3 separate regions of the Homo sapiens genome follow, and regions 1 and 2 are each linked to region 3. Evidence: fine-mapped expression QTL. A gene starts in region 3. Each other region holds a variant in brackets. All regions are shown on one strand. Distances are from middle to middle. Region 1 has its middle 110 kb from the start of LINC02752. Region 2 overlaps AMPD3 (adenosine monophosphate deaminase 3). Region 3 holds the start of RNF141 (ring finger protein 141).

The links. PIP is the estimated chance that this variant, and not a neighbour inherited with it, causes the effect.
Region 1: its variant is the best candidate, but not a certain one, in a credible set for the expression of RNF141 in putamen (GTEx, PIP 0.68).
Region 2: its variant is the best candidate, but not a certain one, in a credible set for the expression of RNF141 in spinal cord (GTEx, PIP 0.63).

The regions. Positions count from the first base shown.
Region 1 is chr11:11,219,043-11,227,401 of GRCh38, reverse strand. No RefSeq gene overlaps it. Among named protein-coding and RNA genes, the nearest start is that of LINC02752, 110 kb to the right of the region's middle. The variant GC/C (reference allele first, on the strand shown) is at 3,066.
Region 2 is chr11:10,461,891-10,470,249 of GRCh38, reverse strand. The region is part of intron 2 of AMPD3 (adenosine monophosphate deaminase 3); the gene reads right to left. Among named protein-coding and RNA genes, the nearest start is that of AMPD3, 11 kb to the right of the region's middle. The variant G/A (reference allele first, on the strand shown) is at 5,543.
Region 3 is chr11:10,536,215-10,544,573 of GRCh38, reverse strand. It overlaps RNF141 (ring finger protein 141), which reads left to right and starts at 3,387. Exons shown (of 6, transcript NM_016422.4): 1 at 3,387-3,452. It overlaps IRAG1-AS1 (IRAG1 antisense RNA 1), which reads right to left and starts at 3,338. Exons shown (of 4, transcript NR_046375.1): 1 at 3,032-3,338. RefSeq lists an enhancer at 3,202-3,311.

The sequences.
Region 1 (8,359 bases), 680 kb before region 3:
GGGCTTAGATCTAAGGGATTTGAGCTCTGAATAATCTTGGAAGATTGGGGAAGGCAACCTGGGGACAGGCCAGCAGGCACTCAGGGTTGCGCATGGGAGAGAGATACTCACACTCTGCAATGTGGCATAATACAATGAGGTAGGGAGATGAGAAAAGGTCTTCATTAGAATCTGTTTGCATATTCATTGTCAACTGTGACTAGCTTAAACTAAACTCACCCATCACAGAAATCCATAGTGACTGTCAGACAATGATAAGCCTTCTTATTTCTCAATTTTGCTTTAAAGTAGACATGACTGAAAATATGCACTGTGTGATGCTCATAATCAGAGATAGACTGCAATTAAAACTAACCAATGATTAAACTTCACCCTCACCCCAACTGTTCACTCAATAACTGTGTTAATCATCATCCTTCCTGCCAGTCATTGCAACTGTGGCTTTTAAGGTTGGCACATGGGGCGCTGCATTGGCCTGTTCATAGGAGGATAAGGGGATGTTGGGAGTATTTGATTTCTGTGCTATCATGGGATCAAAAGGCAAGCTTTGACTTAGCAGTGGCTTGGTGTGCAAGAGAGGAAGCTAGGACAAAGAGTGCTGGTCCACAAGAAGAAATTAGGAGGAGACAGAATTAAGACACTGAGCACTTCCTGCCTGCAGCCCTTTAGTTATGCCTGTAAATTCTGGAAAGTTCTGCAGGTGCTGTATTATAAGAGTAAACACTTCACACAGAATCTGTCTTGAATGACTAATGAGGTGCCACTTCTCTCTCTTTCCAGAAATGCCTTGATCTTTTCACCCTGCTCTGAATTCTCAGGGTCCTGGGCCATAGATTTCTAGTTCTATCTTATTTCTTACTTCGTACCAGGAGTGGGAGGGAAATCTTTTCCTCTTAAGCATAACTCTGTGACATTAACACATTACAATATTACCACATTGTGGACCCTGCCTCTTTTTTCTGTAGTAACAAAGACACTTACTCCATAGGGTGGATGGGAAAAAGAGAAAGGAAGGGAACGGGCAAGAAACCCCTATGCCATCCTTCATGCCCTGGGCCTTGTGCACATATGCACCAACCTTGAGAAAAGCATCATCATCCAAACCCATTTTACAGCTGAGGAAACCAAGACTCAGAAATGGGAGTGAGTGTTGGAGCCAAGAACCAAGATTTGTCTCACGCCAGAGCACACGCCCTTGCCCTGAGCCACTGCCTGTGTCCTGATTTTGCCAGCCAGAGTCCAGTGTTTCATTATTCTGTGTCTAATGGGGTATAATAAACTCGAATTAATTCTGACATTCAGGGCAGAATTTGGTCAACAAATAGAGAAGGTATTGCTGGAGGAACTCAGACGTGAGTGAGATTTGGAGCTAAATAAGGTTAGCCAGGCTCACAGGCTGGAGCAAGAAATCAGCAAAGGGCCAGAGCCCCTAGAACCTGTGAATGGGACCTCATTTGGTGGGGAAAAAAAGGCCTTTACAGATGTAATTAGTTAAGGAGCTTCCTATGGTTTGAACATTTAGTGCCCTCCAAAATGTATTTTGAAACTTAATCCCCAATGCAACAGTATTAAGAAATGTGGCCTTTAGGAGGTGATTGAGTCATAAGACCTCTGTCCCCGTGAATGAGATTAGGTGCCCTGATAAAAGGGCTTGAAGGAGGGAGTCTGCCCCTTTTTTGCCCTTCCACCTTCTGCCATGTAGGACACAGTGTTCATCCCCTCTAGAGAATGCAGCAACTTGGTGCCATCTTGCAAGCAGAGACAGTAGACCTCATAGACGCTGAATCTGCTGGCTACTTGATCCTGTACTTCTTTCTGAACGGTGAGAAATAAATTGCTATTATTTATAAATTACCCAGTCTGTGGTCTTTTGTTATAGCAACACAAACAAAGACAGATCTCCAGATTAGATCATCCTGGATTACCTGGGTGAGCCCTAAATTCAATGAACTGTGTCCTTAGAAGAGAAGGGGAGATGAGACACGCAGAGGAGAAGGTGATGTGATGACAGACACAGAGGTTGGAATGACACGTCTACAAACCAAGGAGCACCCTGGATTGCTGCAGCTGCCAGAAACTAGAGAAGAAACATCTCCTTCAGAACCTCCAGAAGGAACCAACTCTACCAACCCTACCAACATCTTGGGTTTGAACTTCTGGCCTCCATAATCGAAAGAATAGATTTTGATTGTTTTAAGACACCCAGTTTGTGGTAATTTATTGTGGAAACCCTGGAAAACAAATACAGGCTCTACTGCTGATAAGAATTAAGGTCAAACCAGGAAACACCAGCCATCCACTGGCTTTGGGCTGAGGCTGGTCCTGGGTCAGTGATTAAGAGCCCGAGCCTCTCCTTAGGAACTGCATACTGATGATAGAAGCTCAAAACCCTCCTTCTTCAACTTGGAGAATTGGCTGAAGTTTCAAATGCCCTCTGGTCACAGAGGATCCAGGGTCTTGATGGTGAAGAGCTTTGATGTCTGCTGCTGAGAAGGGCTGGGGCAGGCAGGAGCAGGCCCAAGCTGTGTGAGGTTCCTGTCATGGGGGTGTGGCCTGACAGATAGGGCAGGAAAGGGGAGATTATGCCTCTGGTTTTTTCTTCATTGATCATCTGTACCTTTGGAAGGATGGGCATGAGGATTTGGAAGGATGGGCTAGTTAGCTATCGACCCACTGTCCACGGGTTGCATTCAGCTTCTCTGACACAGAGCTGAGGGGATTCTTTCACCTTTCCTCTCCATGCCACCCCTGCTAAGCACCCCTGCACATGAGGGAAGCCTGGCATTGGCCTTGCAGAGGCCCTGACTGAGGGCCCAGGGCTGAGCCCAGACAGGAATTGCCACTTGCAGCATCTTGGAGCATGAAAAGCTGAAAAACAGATGCCCATCAGAGTTCCAGAGAAAGCTTAGATCCTGAAAGACAAAGCACACATGCCAAGTCCTAAGTCTCAAAACGCTGAATCAAAATCAGAATGTGGAGTCAAGAATTCAGAATGGGGCAAAAGGGGGGTCTGGGGTGGAAGCAGGCTGGGGATGAATAAGGGGAGTCCAGGTTGCCTACCCTGG[GC/C]TGACATCCTGGGGGCTGTGGCTCCCCTTCAAGGGATGGCAGGTCCTCGTGAATGACTGGGTAAGGAAAGGCTTATGTAAAGGTCTGAGGCAGCACTGACACCAAGCAGGGGGCCCCATGGTCAGCAGGACAGGCCCATGGTCAAGCCATTGCACTGCCTTCAGTTTACAGTGGGCAAAACAAACCCCGCATCCCTAAGGTCCAACCGGTAGTGACCCAACTGGTAGTGACATCTGTCTTCATGCTCAGGCCTTGGGAAGAGCAGGAGCAGAGAGGACAGAATGGGTGGCAGTATATGCTCCAGAAGCTTGTTTTAGAGTCCAAACCACTGTTCAGAGTTGGAAGCCTGCTCCAGGAATGACACTCAAAGGCACCCACAACAGGCCCCTGTAGGACAAAGCAATGTAGTTGTTCAGAGACTGGGAAAAGTTTTCTCTAAGAACTTGGACTATAGTTTGACCATCAGGCTCTCACTGGCCTGAATCACCTCTGCAAAGACTCCTAACTTAGATCTGGGTCCTGGATCCCACCGCCAACAAAACTCCTGGGCGGGCCATGCACCGTGGCTCATGCCTGTAATCCCAGCACTTTGGGAGGCCAAGGCAGGCGGATCACAAGGTCAGAAGTTCAAGACCAGCCAGTCCAACATAGTGAAACCCCATCTCTACTAAAAATACAAAACTTAGCCGGGCATGGTGGCGCATGCCTGTAGTCCCAGCTACTTGGGAGGCTGAGGCAGGAGAATCGCTTGGACCTGAGAAATGGAGGTTGCAGTGAGCCGAGATCACATCACTGTTCTCCACCTTGGGCAATAGAGTGAGACTTTGTCTCAAAAAAAAAAAAAAAAAAAAAGGGCCGAGTATGGTGGCTCACGCCTGTAATCCCAGCATTTTGGGAGACCGAGGCGGGTGGATCATGAGGTCAGGAGATCGAGACCATCCTGGCTAACATGGTGAAACTCTGTCTCTACTAAAAATACAAAAAAATTAGCCAAACATGGTGGCTGGCACCTGTAGTCCCAGCTACTTGGGAGGCTGAGGCAGGAGAATGGCATGAACCTGGGAGGTGGAGCTTGCAGTGAGCCAAAATCGTGCCACTGCACTCCAGCCTGGGCAACAGAGTGAGACTCCATCTCAAAATAAATACACACATACATACATACATACATACATACATACATACACACACACAAACTCCTGGGCAAAGCAATGGGTTGAACCCCTCTAACCTAAGTCCATTGTCTTTGAGTGGGGAAAAAAAAAAAAAAAAGAACTAGCAGGCCTTGCCCAGAGCAAGAGAAGGTAGAGGTCAAGAATTGGGCTGGGGCCAGACACGGTGGCTCACACCTGTAATCCCAGCACTTTGGGAGGCCGAGGTGGGCAGATCACGAGGTCAGGAGTTCGAAACCAGCCTGGCCAATATGGTGAAACCCTGTCTCTACTAAAAACACAAAAATTAGCCGGGCGTGGTGGCACACACCTGTAATCCCAGCTACTTGGGAGGCTGAAGCAGGAGAATCACTTGAAACCAGAAGGTGGAGGGGTTGCAGTGAGCCGAGCTCGTGCCACTGCACTGCAGCTTGGGCAAAAGAGCTAAACTCCATCTCAAAGAAAAAAAAAGAATTGGGCCGGACCCAACATTTAGCAGCAGAGGTAGCAGAAGACAAAGAGTGGACTGCCAGAGACTATTCTGACTCCACGTGCCCCTCTCAGGACGCCCTCATGATCCACAAGTAGAAGCAAATGAATCCTTTTCCCCAGGGAGCTAGCTCACCTTGTAGGCTCATTAGTGTTTCAAACACAAATTTGGTAGAACAGCAAAAACATATACCTTAGTAACATAATCATATTAATATGTAGAAAAGATCTGATGCAAATTGGAAAGTGGCATTTGGAAACTCTGATAAATGGCCGTGCAGAATTTAAGATTCCATTTGGAAGCCTGTTGGGAAAAAGGTGACACATGGGTTTCCATAGAGGGCTCAGGCTTCCCAGGCTCTGACCACACTCAGTTCAAAACAGCTTTCCAAATTACATCAACATGCAGGCATGACTTGTACCTGTCAAAGGGGATAATTCTTTTCTCCTGTAAATTATATTATCCAAAGCTAGTCAGGATAAGAGGAAACAGGCTCTCACTTCATGCTGCAGGAGGGAGGGTGAGCCCTTCTTCTGCATGGCCATTCAGCAGATTGCCTTGAAATTGGTCATATTTCCTCACCTAGACTTTCACTTCTAAGAACTAAGTCCAAAATATTGTTCAGAGGTTGTGCATGCCATCTCACACACCAATTTAAAGAATAGTCACTAAAGGCTTTTTTATTTCATGGGAAGGAAAAAATAATAAAATAAAATAAATAAAATTAAAAACTCCACTATTTCTGCCTTCCAGAAGGATGGCAAATTCATCTCTATAGTAGATGTCTATTTGATTCAGAAAATCCCTGGCCTTTTGGCTATGATAGGGAAGGCCATGGGCTAGTCTATATATAAGACATTGAGACAAAAAGAAAACTAAATTACTTAGCACAACAAAGTAATAGGATCTCTAGAGTGGTCCTGTTATTGGAAAGAGGTCCTGATCCAGACCTCAAGACAAGGTTCTTGGATCTCGCACAAGAAAGAATGAGGCAAATCCATACAGTAAAGTGAAAGCAAGTTCATTAGGAAAGTAAAGGAATGAAAGAATGGCTACTCCATAGACAGAGCCCATTTTTATGGTTATTTCTTGATTAAATGCTAAACAAGGAATGGATTATCAGTGCCGCCCCTTTTTAAGCCATACAGAGTAACTTCCTGATGTTGCCATGGCATTTGTAAACTGTCATAGTGCTGGTGGGAATGCAGCAGTGAGGATGAACAGAGGTCACTCTTGTCGCCATGCTGGTTTTGGTGGGTTTTAGCCGGCTTCTTTACTGAAGTCTGTTTTATCAGCAAGGTCTTTATGACCTGCAGCTTGTGCCAACGTCCTATCTCATCCTGTGACTTAGAATGCTTTAGCCTCCTGGACGTGCAGCCAAGCAGGTCTCAAGCCTTATCTTACCCAGGCCCTATTCAAGATGGAGCTGTTCTGGTTCAAACGCCTCTCACGATCCCCTGGGCACCCAAGAGAAAGGTGTTCTGGGGAACATGGGACAACCAAGAAGTGAGAAGATGGGAGGAGAGTCTGGGGAGAGGGGGCAGAGCCAAGAAATCTGGTAGCAGGACCTTGGGCTCAGCTGAGAGTGGCAGGAATAATGTTGTCTAATCTTCCATTTTCCAGCTGCAATTCCGTTTTACCCAAACCCTTTAATACAGGTCATTGTACAACAGACTTGTATTAACTTGCCTCTAGGAAATGAAGGAGGTGGGGCTTGCTCATGGTTGAAATGGAGTGAATCAGAATAGGCTGGAAGAGCCAGCAGGAGCCACGGGAAGACGTGAGAGCGAATTACAAATGGAGATTGGAGCAAGCGTTTAGAAACAGCAGTTGCAGGAGAATGTGAGCGCCAGACCCCACTCCCCGACCCCGCCACCCCCACGTTATCTGCAGATACATTAGCAGATATAACTGCTAATACATACAGATACATGGGGGTGGAGGGGCAGCGGGACCAGGGCCGGGGCCAGACCTGAAGAGGAAATCAACACGTTATCTGAAGTGATGGGATTACGTTTTTGTTTTGTTTCTTTCGTCTTTGCATATATATTTTCAAATTGTTTTTCCCAAGTATGTGTTACTTGTGAAATTTTTTAAAGTCAAACTAAAAAAAATAAACAAATGTGCCAACAGGGCTGTGGAAGGACTTGAACACTCAGTAGCAGCATGCAAGCCTTGCTCCCACACCGTTTTTCTCTTCAGACAGAGGGAAAACAAACAGCCATCAGCGCTGGCTCCTCTCCTAAACCTGCACAGGACACGGACTTGAGACAACTGTGAGGCAGAACCCCTTGTTTTCAGGCTCTGCCAACAAGGCTTCCAGAAACTCCAGGAACTCACATCCCAGGAGATGGGCGAAGCAAGGCAGAGCTGTCATTAGCAGGCATTCTCTGTCCCCACCATCCTCTATACTCTCATAGTCTCTAGATGCGATGTTTAAGTGTCTTAAAGAAGATTCACATGGAGAAAGTGGACCTCTCTAGAAAAGGAAATGGCATGCCTTCTACCAGGTTCCTGCTTTTATCCTTTCAGAAAATTCAAGAAACCAAAGTTTTTGAGTTCCAGCAGTGGCTGCTCTCATTCCTGCCAGAATCCCATTCCGTTCTCTGTGCTCTCTCTGGCCTTATGAATCTTGGCAGAGGGCTACTCTCCTATGGTGATGACTCCCATATTAATTTCAGTCTTTTCAAGACTTACTTGCTAATTAAAATGTGAAACAGTTTTTATCCCTTTAATTAAGACACAAGATGGGAAGCATAATTTAATTTGGTCCATTGAAACTATCAGTATTATTAGCTCCATAACTTGCTTCCATGAAAGATGCCTATGTTAAACAATATATTTTTTTTTTCCTCCCACGCTCACTGGAGTTTTGGTATGTGCCCTCAGTCCTGAAACCACCGTGGGAGTTTGTGAACTGTGGTCCCATTGAAAAGGCACCGAATGGAAGCTGGAGCCATCAAGGACATTGGCTGTAGGACCCTGTGGTAGGTTGGACTCCCCTCCCCACAAGAAGCAGACTCTAAGGATTTGAGTACAAGTAGTTGGTACAGTTCATCTAGGGGAGTGAGGAAATAAGACAGGGAGAAGAGGAGAGTCAACTCCGGGTGAGCAAATGAGCAAGCTGCTGTTGTGAGAAACTGGGGGGACGCTCACTGGGGGCACCTGATAATGCGGAACACACTTCACGGCTGCCCCACCAGAGGAATAGGAAGCCGGGTGTTTATCCTCCAATGACCGTCCATCACTGGCTGATGGCTGCTCCCAGGGGCCTCAGCTCCCCAGTACTTCCAGCCTCCTCCTTGGGCAGAGAGTTGCAGATATTGCAGAGGGAAGCCATGGCGTGGAGGGGCGAGGGGTGAGAGGAGAGAGGAGACGGTTACCAAATGCATCTGTAACACACCCACAGCCCGATCCTGCAGCTGCACCAGGCTGGGCAGGAAGGTAGGGGGAGACATGTAGGGAGAGTGTCAATCATCAGCTTATTGCTAGTTCTTTCCATGGCCCAAGAGACAATATCATGGACCAGCAGCAGCCGGGGCCATACTTGGAAGTCTCTCAACAAGGATAAGAGTAGGATTGGAGAAGGGTCAAACTCTCTGGTCCAAACTCAGAGACAAATGTGGGGAAATAAAATGCATGCAGAAATAGATGT
Region 2 (8,359 bases), 74 kb after region 3:
GAAGGACTTTTCTGCATCTATTCAGATAATCATGTGGTTTTCGTCATTGGTTCTGTTTATGCGATGGATTACGCTGATTGATTTGCATATGTTGAACCAGCCTTGCATCCCAGGTATGAAGCCAACTTGATCGTGGTGGATAAGCTTTTTGATGTGCTGCTGGATTTGGTTTGCCAGTATATTATTGAGGACTTTTTTTTTTTTTTTTTTGAGACGGAGTCTCGCTCTGTCGCCCAGGCTGGAGTGCAGTGGCGGGATCTCGGCTCACTGCAAGCTCCGCCTCCCGGGTTCACGCCATTCTCCTGCCTCAGCCTCCCAAGTAGCTGGGACTACAGGCGCCCGCCACTACGCCCGGCTAATTTTTTGTATTTTTAGTAGAGACGGGGTTTCACCGTTTTTAGCCGGGATGGTCTCGATCTCCTGACCTCGTGATCTGCCCGCCTCGGCCTCCCAAAGTGCTGGGATTACAGGCGTGAGCCACCGCGCCCGGCCGAAGACTTTTACATCGATGTTCATCAGGGATATTGGCCTGAAATTTTCTCTGTTGTGTCTCTGCCATGTTTTGGCATCAGGATGATGCTGGCCTCATAAAATGAGTTTGGAATAGTTTCAGAAGGAATGGTACCAGCTCCAAACTATTGTTGGGAATAGTTTCAGAAGGAATGGTACCAGCTCCTCTTTGTACCTCTGGTAGAATTTGGCTGTGAATCTGTCTGGTTCTGGGCTTTTTTTGGTTGGTAGGCTATTCATTACTGCCTCAATTTCATAACTTGTTATTGGTCTATTCAGGGATTCAACTTCTTCCTGGTTTAGACTTGGGAGAGTGTATGCATCCAGGAATTTATCCAATTCTTCTAGATTTTCTAATTTATTTGCATAGAGGTGTTTATAGTATTCTCCGATGGTAGTCTGTATTTCTGTGGGATCAGTGGTGATACCCCGTTTATTATTTTTTATTGTGTCTATTTGATTCTTCTCTCTTTTTCTCTTTGTTAGTCTTGCTAGCAGTCTATTTATTTCATTGATCTTTTCAAAAAAAAAACAGCTCCTGGATTCATTGAGTTTTTGAAGAGTTTTTCATGTCTCTATCTCCTTCGGTTCTGCTCTGATCTTAGTTATTTCTTGTCTTCTGCTAGCTTTTGAATTTGTTTGCTCTTGCTTCTCTAGCTCTTTTAATTGTGATGTTAGGGTGTTGATTTTAGATCTTTCCTGCTTTCTCTTGTGGACATTTAGTGCTATAAATTTCCCACTACACACTGCTTTAAATGTGTCCCAGAGATTCTGGTACGTTGTGTCTTTGTTCTCACTGGTTTCAAAGAACATCTTTATTTCTGCCTTCATTTCCTTATTTACCCAGTAGTCATTCAGGAGCAGATTTTTCAGTTTCCATGTAGTTGTGTGGTTTTGAGTGAGTTTCTTAATCCTGAGTTCTAATTTGATTGCACTGTGGTCTGAGAGACTGTTTGTTATGATTTCCATTCTTTTGCGTTTGCTGAGGAGTGTTTTACTTCCAATTATGTGGTCAATTTTAAAGTAAGTGTGATGAGGTGCTGAGAAGAATGTATATTCTGTTGATTTGGGTTGGAGCTTGTTCCAGAGCTGAGTTCAAGTCCTGAATATCCTTGTTAATTTTGTCTCGTTGATCTGTCTAATATTCACAATGGGGTGTTAAAGTCTCCCATTATTATTGTGTGGGAGTCTAAGTCTCTTTGTAGGTCTCTAAGACTTGCTTTATGAATCTGGGTGCTCCTGTGTTGGGTGCATATATATTTAGGACAGTTAGCTCTTCTTGTTGCATTGATCCCTTTACCATTATGTAATGCCCTTCCTTGTCTCTTTTGATCTTTGTTGGTTTAAAGTCTGTTTTATCAGAGGTTAAACTTGCAACTTCTGCTTTTTTTTTTTTCTTTCCATTTGCTTGGTAAATATTCCTCCATCCCTTTATTTTGAGCCTATGTCTGTCTTTGCACTTGAGATGAGTCTCCTGAATACAGCACACTGTTGGGTCTTGACTCTTCATCCAATTTGCCAGTCTGTGTGTTTTAATTGGGGCATTTAGCCCGTTTACATTTAAGGCTAATATTGTTACGTGTGAATTTGATCCTGTCATCATGATGCTAGCTGGTTGTTTTGCCCATTAGTTGATGCAGTTTCTTCGAAGTGTTGATAGTCTTTACAATTTGGTATGTTTTTGCAGTGGCTGGTACCGGTTGCTCCCTTCCAGGTTTAGTGCTTCCTTCAGGAGCTCTTGTAAGGCAGGCCTGGTGGTGACAAAATCTCTCAGCATTTGCTTGTCTGTAAAGGATTTTATTTCTCCTTTGCTTATGAAGCTTTGTTTGGCTGCATATGAAATTCTGGGTTGAAAATTCTTTTCTTCAAGAATGTTGAATATTGGCCCCCACTCTCTTCTGGCTTGTAGGGTTTCTGCAGAGAGATCTGCTGTTAGTCTGATGGGCTTCTCTTTGTGGGTAGCCTGACCTTTCTCTCTGGCTGCCCTTAACATTTTTTCCTTCATTTCAACCTTGGGGCATCTGACGATTATGTGTCTTGGGGTTGCTCTTCTCGAGGAATATCTTTGTGGTGTTCTCTGTATTTCCTGAATTTGAATGTTGGCTTGTCTTGCTAGGTTGGGGAAGTTTTCCTGGATAATATCCTGAAGAGTGTTTTCCACTTGTTTCGATTCTCCCCGTCACTTTCAGGTACATCCATCAAACGTAGGTTTGGTCTTTGCACATAGTCCCATATTTCTTGGAGGCTTTGTTCATTCCTTTTCATTTTTTTTCCTCTTATCTTGTCTTCTTATTTTATTTCATTAAGTTGGTCTTCAATCTCTGATATCCTTTCTTCCGTTTGATTGATTCAGCTATTCATACTTGTGAATGCTTCACAATGTTCTCGTGCTGTGTTTTTCTGCTCCATCAGGTCATTTATGTTCTTCTCTAAACTGGTTTTTCTAGTTAGCAATTCATCTATCCTTTTTTCAAGGTTCTTATCTTCCTTGCATTGGGTTAGAACATGTTCCTTTAGCTCAGAGGCGTTTGTTATTACCCACCTTCTGAAGCCTACTTCTGTCAATTGGTCAAACTCATTCTCTGTCCAGTTTTTTTCCCTTGCTGGCAAGGAGTTGTGATCATTTGGAGGAGAAGAGGCATTCTGGTTTTTGGAATTTTCAGCCTTTTTGCACTGGTTTACATCCCCATCTTCGTGGATTTATCTATCTTTGGTCTTTGATGCTGGTGATTTTCGGATGTGGTCTCTGATTAGATGTGCTATTCCTTTCTGTTTGTTAGATTTCCTCCTAACAATCAGACCCCTCTGCTAGAGTTTGCTGGAGGTCCACTCCAGACCCTGTTTGGCTGGGTGTCACTAGTGGAGGCTGCAGAACAGCAAAGACTGCTGCCTGTTCTTTCCTCTGGAAGCTTCATCCCAGAGGGGCACTTGCCTGATGCCAGCCAGAGCTCTCCTGTATGAGATGCCTGTCGGCCCCTACTGGGAGGTGTCTCCCAGTCAGGATACACGGGGGTTAGGGACCCACTTGAGGAGGCAGTCTCACCCTTAGCAGAGCTTGAACGCTGTGCTGGGAGGACTGCTGGTCTCTTCAGAGCTGTCAGGCAGGGACATTTATGTCTGCTGAAGCTGTGCCCACAGCTGCCCCTTCCCCCAGGTGCTCTGTCCCAGGGAGATGGGGGTTTTATCTATAAGTCCCTGATTGGGGCTGCTGCCTTTTTTTCAGAGATGCCCTGCCCAGAGAGAAGAAATCTAGAGAGGCAGTCTGGCCACAGCAGCTTTGCTGAGCTGCGGTGGGTTCCACCTAGTTTGAACTTCCTGGTGGCTTTGTTTACACTGTGAGGGTAAAACCTCCTACTCAAGCCTCAGCAATGGCCAACGACCCTCCCCCTACGAAGCTTGAGTGTCCCAGATTGATCTCAGACTGCTGCTGTGCTGGCAGTGAGAATTTTGAGCCAGTGGATCTTTTTTTTTTTTCTTTGAGACGGAGTTTTGCTCTTGTCACCCAAGCTCAGTGCAATGGTGCGATCTCAGATCACTGCAACCTCCTTCTCCTGGGTTCAAGCGATTCTCCTGCCTCAACCTCCCAAGTAACTGGGATTACAGGTGCCCCCCACCACGCCCGGCTAATCTTTGTATTTTTAGTAGAGATGAGGTTTCACCATGTTGGCCAGGCTGGTCTTGAACTCCTGACGTCAGGTGATCCACTCGCCTTGGCCTCCCTAAGTGCTGGGATTACAGGCATGAGCCACTGCGCCTGGCCACCAGTGGATCTTAGTTTGCTGGGCTCCATGGGGCTGGGACCTGCCAAGCCAGACCACTTGGCTCCCTGGCTTTAGCCCCCTTTCCAGGGGAGTGAATGATTCTGTCTTGCTGGCGCTCCAGGCGCCACTGGGGTACAGAAAAAAAAAAAAAAAAAAAAACTCCTGCAGCTAGTTCAGTGTCTGCCTGAATGGCCGCCCTGTTTTGTGCTTGAAACCCAGGGCCCTGGTGGTGTAGGCACCAGAGGCAGTCTCCTGGTCTGCAGGTTGCAAGGACCATGGGAAAAGCACAGTATCTGGGCCAGAGTGCACAGTTCCTCAGGCTCAGTCCCTCAAGGCTTCCCTTGGGTAAGGAAGATAATTCCCCCATCCCTTGTGCTTCTCAGGTGAGGCAACGCCTCACCTTGCTTTGGCTCACCCTCCTTGGGCTGCACCCGCTGTCCAACTAGCCCCAGTGAGATGAACCAGTACCTCAGTTGGAAATGCAGAAATCACCCCCTTCTGCATCGATCTCACTGGGAGCTGCAGACCGGAGATGTTCCTAATTGGCCATCTTGCCAGCCTTAACTATATCCTAATTTTTTAAAAATCAATTTTTATCTGGCTTCTTAAAAAAATACATAATTCCTGCATTCTTCCTCAAAGCATGCTGAACATAATTTAAAGTTTTCTCAATGACCCAGGATCATCACTGTATTATCCAGTTATGATCTCAGAGGTGTGTTATCCCTAAACTACTGTGCTTCAAATTCTTGTGCCTGCTTTTCATAATTATTTTGTTTCCTCTCTCACTGTTGACTGTCTAATAACAACAATAACAAAACAGGAACATTAATGGTGCTCCAAGCACTGCGCTAAGGATTTTTTGTGTATTCGCTCATTTAATTCTCACAAGGTATGTCCTTTTATTATTCTCATTTTGCAGTTTAGGAAACCAGCTCAGGCAGTCAAGAGCTTTGACCAAGGCCATTCAGTAGTAAGTGACAGGGCTGCCACTTGAACCCAATAGGTCTGACCCCAAAGCCCAGGCTTATAATCACCACACATCACCTCTGTGACCCTGCCTGTAGAAGTCTCTCTCCCTGCTTCTAATTTGCTTCTTTAAATCTGCCACGGGATAAGAAACAATATAGCCAGATTATAGAATTCTGTGTAAAGTAAGAATAAATAGGAGATGGGATGGGAGGTGCCACAGACAAAGAGGGAGCTGGGGAGAGGGTGTCCTCCATGAAAATGTTAACTTTCGAACATTTACATATAAAGGCACCTCTAGT[G/A]AGAAGAGAAACTAAAAGACAAAATTGGGTATGGGCAGACCCCAGAGGAGGATGCTGGGGCATCTGACAGTCCAGGGACCAAGCTTTTTTTCAGGAAAGAAGCCGATGGACAGAGCGGGAGCTTTGACCAGTTTCCCTCCATTTCATTTAGAAGCAACAATTACATTCTAGGGAGCAGCACCTAGTGTCATTCCAGGGTCTACAGACCAGGGAACCGAAGACTCCACCCCTACCTGAAGAGGGGATAGCCTTATGGTTGAAGTGTGGGGTCTAGATTCAAAAGATATGGGCTCTAGTTCTTGCTCTGTCATTTACTCACTATGTGTCTTTGTGAAAGTAAATTCAACTTCTCTGAGCCTTCGTTCCCTAATCTGCAAAATCAGAATACTAAGAATATCCATTTGATAAGCTCGATGTGAGAATTAAAGAATGAATCCAACCTACACAGGCTAGTACTTAGCCCATAGTAAGTATTCAATGGCAGGAGCTGCTATTGTTCCCTGTCTCAGCAGCAGGAAGTCAGAGAAATCACTTATATTTACTCGGGATGCACTATAACCAGACACTGTCCGAAGCCTTTTACCTGTGGATTCCCTCATTCCTCACAACACCCCATGAAGGTAGCTGTTAGCATCTCCACTTTATAGATGAGGACGAGGCTGAGGCCCAGAGAGGTTTCCTAATTTCCCCAAAGTCACAGAGCATGACAGTGAGTGGCAGAACACAGAGGTCCAAGAAGTTGCAGCCACCCTGATGTAGTGTCCATGGTGGCAATGGGGAGGCAGGATGTCTTCCTCTGCCAGACATCCACTGCCCACCAACTAAGTTCCACAATGGATCCAGTCCTCAAGGAGCGTCTAGTCAAATGGCGCAGACAGATGCAAACTAAGACACCATAACCTAGGCAAGGACAGAACAAAGTTTTTGGAGAGAAGTTTGCAGGGGAATTTCTGGAAACCACAGAGCACCATTAAGACTTAGAGTAAGAAAGCTTCCATTTTGCCCTGAGTCTGGGCATTGAGAAGAGCACAGTCGCTTCAGCAGATGTCAGGCCCAGTGTCACTCTGTAGTGGAAACTGGTTCCAGAAACTTATTGTTCCTAGTAATAAAAAATGCCAGGATTTCTTTTCCTCTCATTGTTAAGGGTCTCAAATGCTCAATTCATAACACACAGAAGGCCCTGCAGACCATTCACTTGATGAAGTCAGCCCTTCTGTTCCACCCACGGAGTGTGAATGAGGGTCTCTACAGTCATACTCTTCTTGACCCTCCAGGGATGAGCACACTGCTGGGGCTGGGGCCACCCCACCTTATCCAACACAAGGCTGGCACTCAGAGGTTAACCAATGGCACCAGTGACTCCTGCCTTTATGGGCTCACCATCCTTTCAAGGAAGGAAAGCACTGGTCTTATGAGTGGTGAAGCTCTGTTCTTGCCTTTACACCAGTAGTCAACTTTTTACTTCTTTCCAAACGAGTTAAGAAAATGCGAGCTTCTACACAACCAAGAAAGGAAAAGACTTGCCTTTAAAACTGAGGCAGTATCTAGTGTGATCACAGACTAGGTCGGAGAGGGCTCAAAGGTCTACCATGTCAACTATTGATGTTTGCAGGGTACCGGGCAGGCAGAAAATCTGATAAAGCCCAGGGTGAGATAAACTGTGAAAGGATGAGGGCTTCTCATTTCACTTAGACTCCAATCCAAACTTCTTATCAGGGAGCACAAGGCCAGTCTGATCTGGGCCCCACAAGTCCTCCAGCCCTGGTCACAGCACTTCTTCCTTTAACAGACCTCTAACCACATGGGCCTTCTGGAAGAAACTGGGGGGCCTTTGCCCTAGCTGATTCTTCTATCTGGAAGGCCACATAGCTAGCTTCTTTATACCCTGAAGCATCCGCTAAGATGTCATCTCCTTGGAGAGGCCTTCCCTGACTTCCCAGTCTAAAAAAGGATTTTTTCTCTCTCTTTCCCGGCCTTTCTCTCCCCTAACCCCATCTCATCCTTATTCATCTCTTTCATAGCACTTGCGCTGCTCCTGGGCCTGTTTGCCCTCAGATCCATTCCTCATCCTCTCCTGTGTTTCCCAAGTGTGCCAGCAGGATTCTGGCTAGGTTTGGCCCATGGCAGCCACTGGGAGAACCTGGAAGGTGCAGAAAGGGTCAAACGAGGTATTGCCTGCCTCCATCTCTGCCTTGGGAGGCATCTCTGCAGCTGCCACCTCTTCCCCTTGGCTCCAGTTTCCACTGGAAAGTCCACCACAGTTCCACCTTCCCCAGGGCGACTCCACCTTGGCTCCAGAAACACTACTGCTTTCCTTGTCACTCCTGTCCTGGGTAGTAGCTGCTCCTTACTGTGTCTAATCTCTGAGCCGCCTCTCTCTCCCCTGTTTGGTTTCTCAGCTCTCTACCACCTGTGTAACCAATTCCCTGCATTAAAATTCTAATACTTCATTGGTTTCTGATCTTCTAGTTGGACCCTGACTGATACAGCACTTATTATAACTTGTAATTTTTAAGTTAATTTGTCCAGTTACTTAATTATTGTCTAGACCCAGGGACTCTATCTATCTTGTTCATTATAACATCTCCAGTCCCAGCACAGCACCCGGCAAATAGTAAGCTGTGTTCATTAGTAATGCAAAATGCTTGTCAAGTGATGAGAAGAAATACAATTGCTGTCTCCTAAGAAATCCTCAAATTTCCAAAAAGAAAAGAGAAATGCCATTTGGAAATGGTGTGTATTTTTTCACATCAGCAGCAAAGTGGGTTTTGATCTTTTCAGTGCAACAGAGGCACCGAGACATCCCTCAATAAATAA
Region 3 (8,359 bases):
CCTGCCTGCAGAAAGGAGCCACCCACTGTGGGTCTCCTCTCAGCTGAGAGCTGGGCAGACAACCGGACAACCTGCCTGCAGAAAGGAGCTACCCACTTAGAGTCTCCTGAGAGCTATACTGTCACTCAATAAAGCACCTCTTCACCCTACTCACCCTCCAATTGTCTGCATACCTCATTATTCCTGGATGTGGGACAACAACTTGGGACCTGCCAAATGGCAGGACTGAAAGAACTGTAACACAAACAGGGCTGAAACACCCCCTCACTCCCCATGTTGCAAGCGATGAGAAGGACAGAAGAGAGAAGGAGAGAAGAGCTTTGACACTTCGAGAAGCCCAGACCTAAGAGCTCCCTGAGCCAGGACTGTAACACCCTCTTGGGGGCTCTGCATTTCCTGGCATCTCAAAGCTTCCAGGTGCCACCACATTCCCTAGTGCCAGCAGTGGAAGCCGCTTGTGGTACTCCTGGTCCAGCCACAGCTTTGCAGGAGCCAGCGCCCATGCCAGCACCTGGAGCCACCCGCCCCGCCACAGCTGGCGTGCCTAGCTGTGCACAGCGGCCAGACCTCGCGCTCACTTGCTCACGCACCCCTCACCACTTTGCGCCTGGCTCGTCCTTGGCAGGCATGGGATCTGGGCCAGTGGCATGAGCCGAGTGCAGCCTGCAAGGCCAAATGGGCAGAATGAGCCCAGTGGGCCTGAGCAAAACTCGGGCAAAGGAGCCACCGGCCACAGAGGTTTCTGGCTGGCAGAGCAACACTCCAAGGATCCTGTGACAGTATGAGGAAAGGAGCAAGATATTAAGAGTTTTTTGGCATATGCTATTCAATTTTTTCAGGTTTATTTGTTGAAAAGATTATCTTTTCCCCCACTGAATTGCCTTGGCATATTTGTCGAAAATCAATTGATGACATATGTATAGATACATCTCTGGGTTCTATATACTGTTCCATTACTCTATCTATTTTCATACCTATACTATACTGTGTTGAGTAGCTCTTATTATAATGTCTTGAGATCAGGTAGTGTAAGTCCCAAAACTTTGTTTTTTTTGATGAAAGTCTTGACTATCCTAGGTCCTTTGCATCTCCATATAAATTTTAGAATTAGTTTGGTCATTTCCATCAAAAAGAAATCTGCTAGAATTTTTATTGGAATTTCCTTAAATCTGTAGGTCAATTTAGGCAGAAGTGATATCTTAAAAATGCTCAGTCTTCTGATTCATGAACATAATGTATCTCTATTTATTTAGGTCTTCTTTAATTTCTCTTAACAATGTTTTTTATTTTATTTTAGATTCAGGGGGTACACGTGTAGTTTTGTTACATGGGTATATCGAACAATGCTGAGGTTTAGGCTTCTAATGATCCAGGTCACCCAAGTGGTGAACATAGTACCCAATAGTAGTTTTTTCTACCCTTTTGGAATCCCCAGTGTTTATTGTTCCCAACTTTGTGTCTGTGTACTCAACGTTTAGCTCCTACTTATAAGTGAGAACATGCGGTATTTGGTTTCCTGTTTCTGCATTATTTTGCTTAGGACAATGGCCTCCAGCTGTATTCATGTTGCTGCAAAAGATATGATCTAGTCCTTTTTGTGGTTGTATAGTATTCCATGGCGTATATGTACCACACTTTCTTTATCCAATCCACTATTGATAAGCACCTGGGTTGATTCCATGTCTTTGCTATTCCATAATATTTTATAGTTTTCAGTATACATGTCTTTCTCATCTTTGGTCAAATTTGTCCCAAATTTGCTGCTTTTTTTTTTTTTTTTTTTTTTGCTGATAAGAGATATTTAAAAATTTTCCATTTCTAATTGTTCATTGCTAGTATATAGAAATACAACTGATTTTTGTATATTTGATTTTGTATCTTGCAACTTTTGTAAACTCACTTATGAGTTCTAGCAGCTTTTTTGTAGTATTCCACAATTTTCTTATGCAAATAAATGCAGTGCTACAACTTCCTTTCCAACTTGGATGCCTTTTATATATTTGTCTTTTTTTATTTCATTGACCAGAACTTCCAATACAATGTTTAATTGAAGGCAATTTTTACAGAGTAATATTTCTAACTCCCAGGCCCGGATTAGGCTGAACTATGGAATCTTGTTGAATTTGATATCTTTTGGAATTTATTAAATCATTATTTATACTTCATTTTTAAGCTTTTTCCTTTTCCAGTGTTCAAATATTCATCAAATGTTCAAATATTGAACAAGTACCATGCTGGCTGTCAGGGAAATAATGGTGCACAAACAGGCATGGACCTAGCGCTAATGAAGTCTTACCGTACTACCGAGGCAGTTTAAAACAGGAATTAAAAACACAGGTTCAGGGTTCTGTCTGCTTGGGTTTGAATCTGGCTCTGCTCCTTAATGGTTGTTTGACCTTGGAAAAGTTAATCGACTTTTCTAAGCCTGTGTCTTAGTGAAGGTATTAATAATACCTACTCACAGGATTGCTGTGAAGATTAAACGAATTAATACCTTTAAAGTCCTTAAAATACGGTTTGACATATAGTAAATGGTCAAAGAGTATTATTATTAGAGGGAAGAATTAGCTCTTCACAAGGTGAATCTACAAGTGACTGGTGAAGGAGGGGTGTACAAACAAGAAACATAAAAACCAGTTTAACTGCTAAGCATAGAGGCAGCAGTGTCAGCTGTACCTGGGTTAAAATCCTTGCTCTGCTGTTTATTGTCTAGGCAACTTTGACCAGACGACTTAAACAAGAGCAATGCCCGTAAAGTGCCTAGTGCAGTATTTGGCACACAACAGATGCTTAAAAGACAGCAATTACTGATTCAGACGTCCCGCAGAGCAGTAATATCACTAACATGTGCTCATCATCATATCTATCATTTATCAAAGCTCAGGATTTTGAACCTTGTAATTACTTTTCATACATTCTCTTATGCTTAACAACTCGGCTAGGTGAACACAATCCATTGCCTCATAAAGAAACAAGATGACCTTTGTGTATCTATCATCAGTGGGGAGGCTGGAGGTCTGGGAAGTGGTACCTTGGAGCCCAACTGTTGACCAAACCAGGGCTCTCAGTGCGGCCTTGGTCGCCAGCGGGGCGCTCCACTTTCCGCTCCGGAGATGGCACCAGGAGAGATGGGAGTCTGCCAGGCTGTTTCCATGGCCACCTCATGAAGCCCCTGCTCCGGGAGCGTGACAGGCGAGACTCTCCTTCGCCGCCACCTCTCGTCTCAGATGACCATCTGGGCTCGAAAGCCCTCAGGAGCTGCGGAGCGCGGGTCGGTAGGGGCGCTGCAGAGGAAGGTTGGGCGCCGTCTCCCGGCAACGCGCGGGGGGCGGGGCTTTGCGTCACAGAGGTGCGACCGGGTCCCGGCCTGAGTCGCGGCCACCCGCAGGTCTGAGCTGTGGGCTGAGGCAGCGCAGCCGCTGCCGCAGGGTGCGCGATGCCTTGAACCTGGGGTGAGCTCCGCGGCGCTGTCCTTTCGTGTTTCCCTTGCTAGCTGCTCCAGGACTCTGGGTCTGGGAAGAGAAACCCCAGAGGGCCCTCCGCTGCCGAGCCAGGCTTCCGCGGGGAGACAGGCCTAGCCCCGCCGCCCTCCCCGGGCCTCGGATTGGGGCGTGGGGACGGCTGGGGAGGCCATTCTATTGACGCCCGTCTTCTGCCCGGCGGGTTCCAGTTGCCCGGGGTGGCGGTGGCTTGTCCCGCCTCGGGGTGGTTCTGAGGGACCCGGAGAGAGTTTTTCCTTCTCTATCCCAAAACGGTTGTTTGAATATTGCCGCCGGCTCAGTCATTCGGCCGCCGGACTTAGCTGTTGGTTAAATGTCCAGGTGCGCTTGAGGAGGGGCTGAGGCGGCGTAGCCAGAGCGAGCGCTAGGGTGGCCCGCGGGCTCGGTCTCCGCCGGGCTGGACACCCAAATAAGAAACCTTTTGCCTGGGACGATAGCTCAGAAATAGCCACGTCGATCTACTTAGCCAGCCCCACACTTATGAATTGGCTTAGGCTGCTACCCTTCCCAAAGGTCTTTCCTTGTCAAACTAGCTGCTACCTTGAGACCCGGCTAAGAAAAGAACGTTTTCTTGCTAATAATAAGAAGGTAGTGATTACACAGCAGGAGCAGAAGGCTTCTGTGTTAGCTTTTGAAATTATTCCTTCAGTTATTTGTCTCGGCGTTACAAAATGTGGATTTACGATTGTTATTGAAATCGATCCCTATGCCCCTTATTAAAGGTAGTGTACCTTTTATATTCTGACACTGTCCTATTTAGCGGTGCCAGCTAATTCAGTTCTTGCCTCTGGCATATATATAAAGCTGCTGGAACACTTTCAATTGTTTATAATTCTTACATCTTCAGCACGAATTTATTCGTTTTCACTCCCTTCTGCCCATTCTTCTTGCTATAAAATGACCTCTACCCATTCAGAATTTTGTCTGGGGGCATGAGCTGCCACCGGCCGACGATCCTAAATTAGTCACCTCCATGTCGAAGTCACCCGTCTGAGAAGTGATGCTTTCTGAATTCAGAGCTCAAAAATAGTATGGATTTTTATCCTTTTCTTTCACATTGCCTGACTTCAGTTTCTAGAACTTTTTCTCAAGAATATGACTATATGTTTCAAAAATTAATATTTGTCATTTGGTGTAAATGAACTTTATATTCGATGTGTGTAGCCTGATCCTTCTTGGTTCCCATCTAAATACAAACACGCTTTCCTTCCCAAAAAGGCAAGGGAGGTCCAGAGAGAATTCTTACAAGTCTAATATGCTTTTTCCAATATGAAATGCATTTAGTAAACACACTGTTACTGTGAGAAATCCATATTCTTAATCTCCTAGTACGGCACTCTATCCTTTTGTAGTTTCTCTCTCCTTCTCTCTCTAATATATATGTATGTATCTTTTTCTGATCAAGATCTTTGATTCTGGAACAGGCATTCTGGACTCTATAGTGACTCTGGCCTAATTATTTCACTATGTATCTATATTAACTTGTCTTGAAAAAAAAAAGTTGATATCTGTTTACAGATCTACAGTTTGAGTAAACAATGAGTAATAAAGTAAATAATATCCTTAGGGACCCAGTCAGTAGTACTTGGTATTTATTACTGATGTTAAAGTTGACTTGACAGTGAAAATCATTGATGTTTATTTCAATTAAATCCTTTTAGGTGAGGTTGATACAAAATTTGATGGAGAACTGGTTTCAGAGAGGTTTTTAAAATACTACAGTGCAGTACTTGTCATTTAGTCATTTTGGTGCATTTTCAGCCTTTTCCATTTTGCTTTAGTTATTTTATGAATGAATTATGGTTTAAATTTTTAGGAGTTTTTGAGCAGTTTTTTCGTTTTTGCTTTGCCAGTTACCCATGATGTAATTTTAATATTTTTATAAGGAATATTTGAACTTCCACAATTCATTTGTTAGAAAAATAAGTGATTCACTATGTACCACCCACTAGAGAATGTGGCATTTTTGGAATCCTTGATCTTGTGCATTTCAAAATAACAGTTCTTTATTTAGAAAATCCTTCAAATGCTTTTTGAAAGCATATTTTTATCTTGCAAAAAATGACTGTGTTATAGGTGGCACAATAATATGAGAGCTGCTAGTTCTTTGAGAAATCTTGACCAGAAATTCATCTTTTGTTGAATTCTGTGCCAGTGGTTTGCAAATTATGTTTCTATGCAATACCACTGTTGCATGGCCTAGGGGGGAGTATCTTGTTAAAATCAAATAGTAAATGTTTCCCAGTTTACATAAGCATTAATTTAATGACAGATTTTCACAGTTTTACATTTTCTTTCATACATATTTTTAACTTCTGCTTCTCTCCAACCTAGTACTAATAGATGACTGACCAAATTAACAAAAGTCAAAAGAATACTAAGTGAATAATAATAAAACAAAAACTGCCAATGGTATTTACTGCATTTATTCAGTAAACATCTATTGAGTGCTTGTGTATCTGCCAGAAGACAGACCATAGCTGCTGTCCTCAAGAAGCTCACTAGAGGGAAATGGCCAAGTGACTTAACGAATGTCATAGTATGATAGAAATATGTGCAGTCACCAAAGAGGGACACTGAAAAGCTGTGGTGGTTGACTAGAGGATGGCCTCAACAGATTGTTTTCGTGAACATGCACTCTGTGTTGTGGTTTTATATTGTATGCAGATCACAGAGTCATATCTTATTTTCACACCCATATAGTGATAGATGTTAATATTTATCAATATTTTATGGTTTTCAAAATAAACTAAATGTCAAGCCCTCTTTCTGGAACCAGGTTGAAAACCACTTCTGCAGGCTCTCTCAGGTAGTCTCTAGATACTGTTGCATTTTAATGCAAGGAGTTAGTGATGAAGTTTCCCAGATACCAAGTACAGTTACAAGATAACAAGTTAATATGCTGCCTCAAATTATAAACTTTACTCAAAGTTAGGGCAGCAGATGAAAACAATGCTGAAACAAAGGGGATCATTTTCTATTAATAACTCAATAAATAAGCAACTAACTCTTCTTTTGAAATATGGTTTTGGTGGGTAATGTAGGGTAGCAAAATACGCCACTTTGGCATAAGGATTATTTTGAGTTAAAAGCACATTGAAAAGCAGCAGATGTAAGAAGTGCCCACTGACCCTCCTAATTCTTCCTGAAGGCTGGAGATAAAACAGCCATGTGAAAGATGTCCTCTCTATGCCAGGAGGAAGACATTATCATTACTAGAAGTGGGCAATCAAAGCTGAGAGAAATGTGTTCAAAGAAGCCTTCTTAAAGTAACCCTTATCTTCCTAGTCACTTTTCTGTGATTAACTGGCCCAGCCCAAACCCTTGTGTCTTGTCATGTTTTCACAGTTTACTTCTCCTTTGTCCAATCTACTATGTAAGCTTTTGGCCTTAATTACTTTTTTTAGTCCTTATTTTTCTTGAGGGCTCCTGTGTATGTATAAAAATTACTAAATAAAATTTGTGTGTTTTTCTCCTGTTAATCTGTCTTAGGTTAGTTTAATTCTTGGGCCCAGCTGGAGACCTCAGAGAGCAGAGGGAGAGAAATTCTATCTCCCCTATACCACGTTGGTTAAATTATCATAGGTATTTATATTAAATATTGAGACTATATATTTCAAAAGTTCAGTTTTTTTCTTTGTTAAGTAATGTAGATATTATTCAAAGTTTTCAGCCTGGTTGACTAGAATCTTAATTACATTTTCATTAAATTGGTACAGGAATGTTAGAGGAAGGTTCAGTTTCATTTTGGGAATAAAATGTTAGGTTAAAGGTCACCTACTCCACTTCCCACCCAGGTAAAAATCCCTGTAACACTTATTAGATGTACTTCTAATCTTTACCTAAACACTTCCATACTTCCAATGAGAGGGAGCTCACATGTAGCAGCCATTTCCACTTCTGGATGGTGCGACATGCTTATCATCAACTGAAATCTGCCTTTCTAATTTATACTTACTATACTTAGTGGCCATCCCATTCTCTGTAAATGAATCTTGTTTTTCCACATGACAGCTCCTCAGATATTTAAACAAACTTATATTGCTTCATTGTTACCAAACTATGACTATCTAGAATAAACCTCTTTTTTTTTCTATGCCCATGAATATGTTCTAATTTATTAGTATCCTTTAAAGCCAACTGCTTAGAGCTGAATACAGACTTTTCAGTGTGGCCTAACCATTGCAAAGCATAATGGACTAGTAGGCTGCTTGCTCAAGATACCTGCTTCTAGCAAGAGTTTAGGATTATTTTAGCATACTTGTTGCCCCCGTTATACTGTTGACTTATTTTGATTAAAAACCCCAGACTTGGCCGGGTGCGGCAGCTCATGCCTGTAATCCTCGGCCTGGGAGGCCGAGGCGGGAGGATTGCTTGAGCCCAGGAGTTTGTTACCAGACTGGGCAACAAACTCTGTTTGTTTAAAGAGACTCCATCTCTTTAAAAAACACAAAAACAAAAACCCAGACCTTCTGTATTTTAACTGCTTTTGAGCACATCTTACATATGTGTTTTTGTGCAGTTGGCTCTTCAGGATATAACTTTTAGTCATATTAAATAGCATGTAAGTGTCTGTTTTAGTCTTGATCCTATTATTCACTAGATAATATTCATTTATTCCAGTTTTGGTCATCCGCAGATTGGGCAGGCATACAGTCTTCAGGTCATCAACAAAAATGTTAAACAGCCCAACTCTTGGTGCCAGTTTCCCTCTCCCTTTGCCTCTCTGCTTTAGTCCTTGTGGCCTTTTTAAAAATTACCTCAAAGTCACCGTGCTGCTTCCTGTCTCAGGCACTTTTCATAACCTCTGCCTGGAGTGTCCTCCTTTTGCCATTTCCCTACTTTTTTTTTAATCCCTA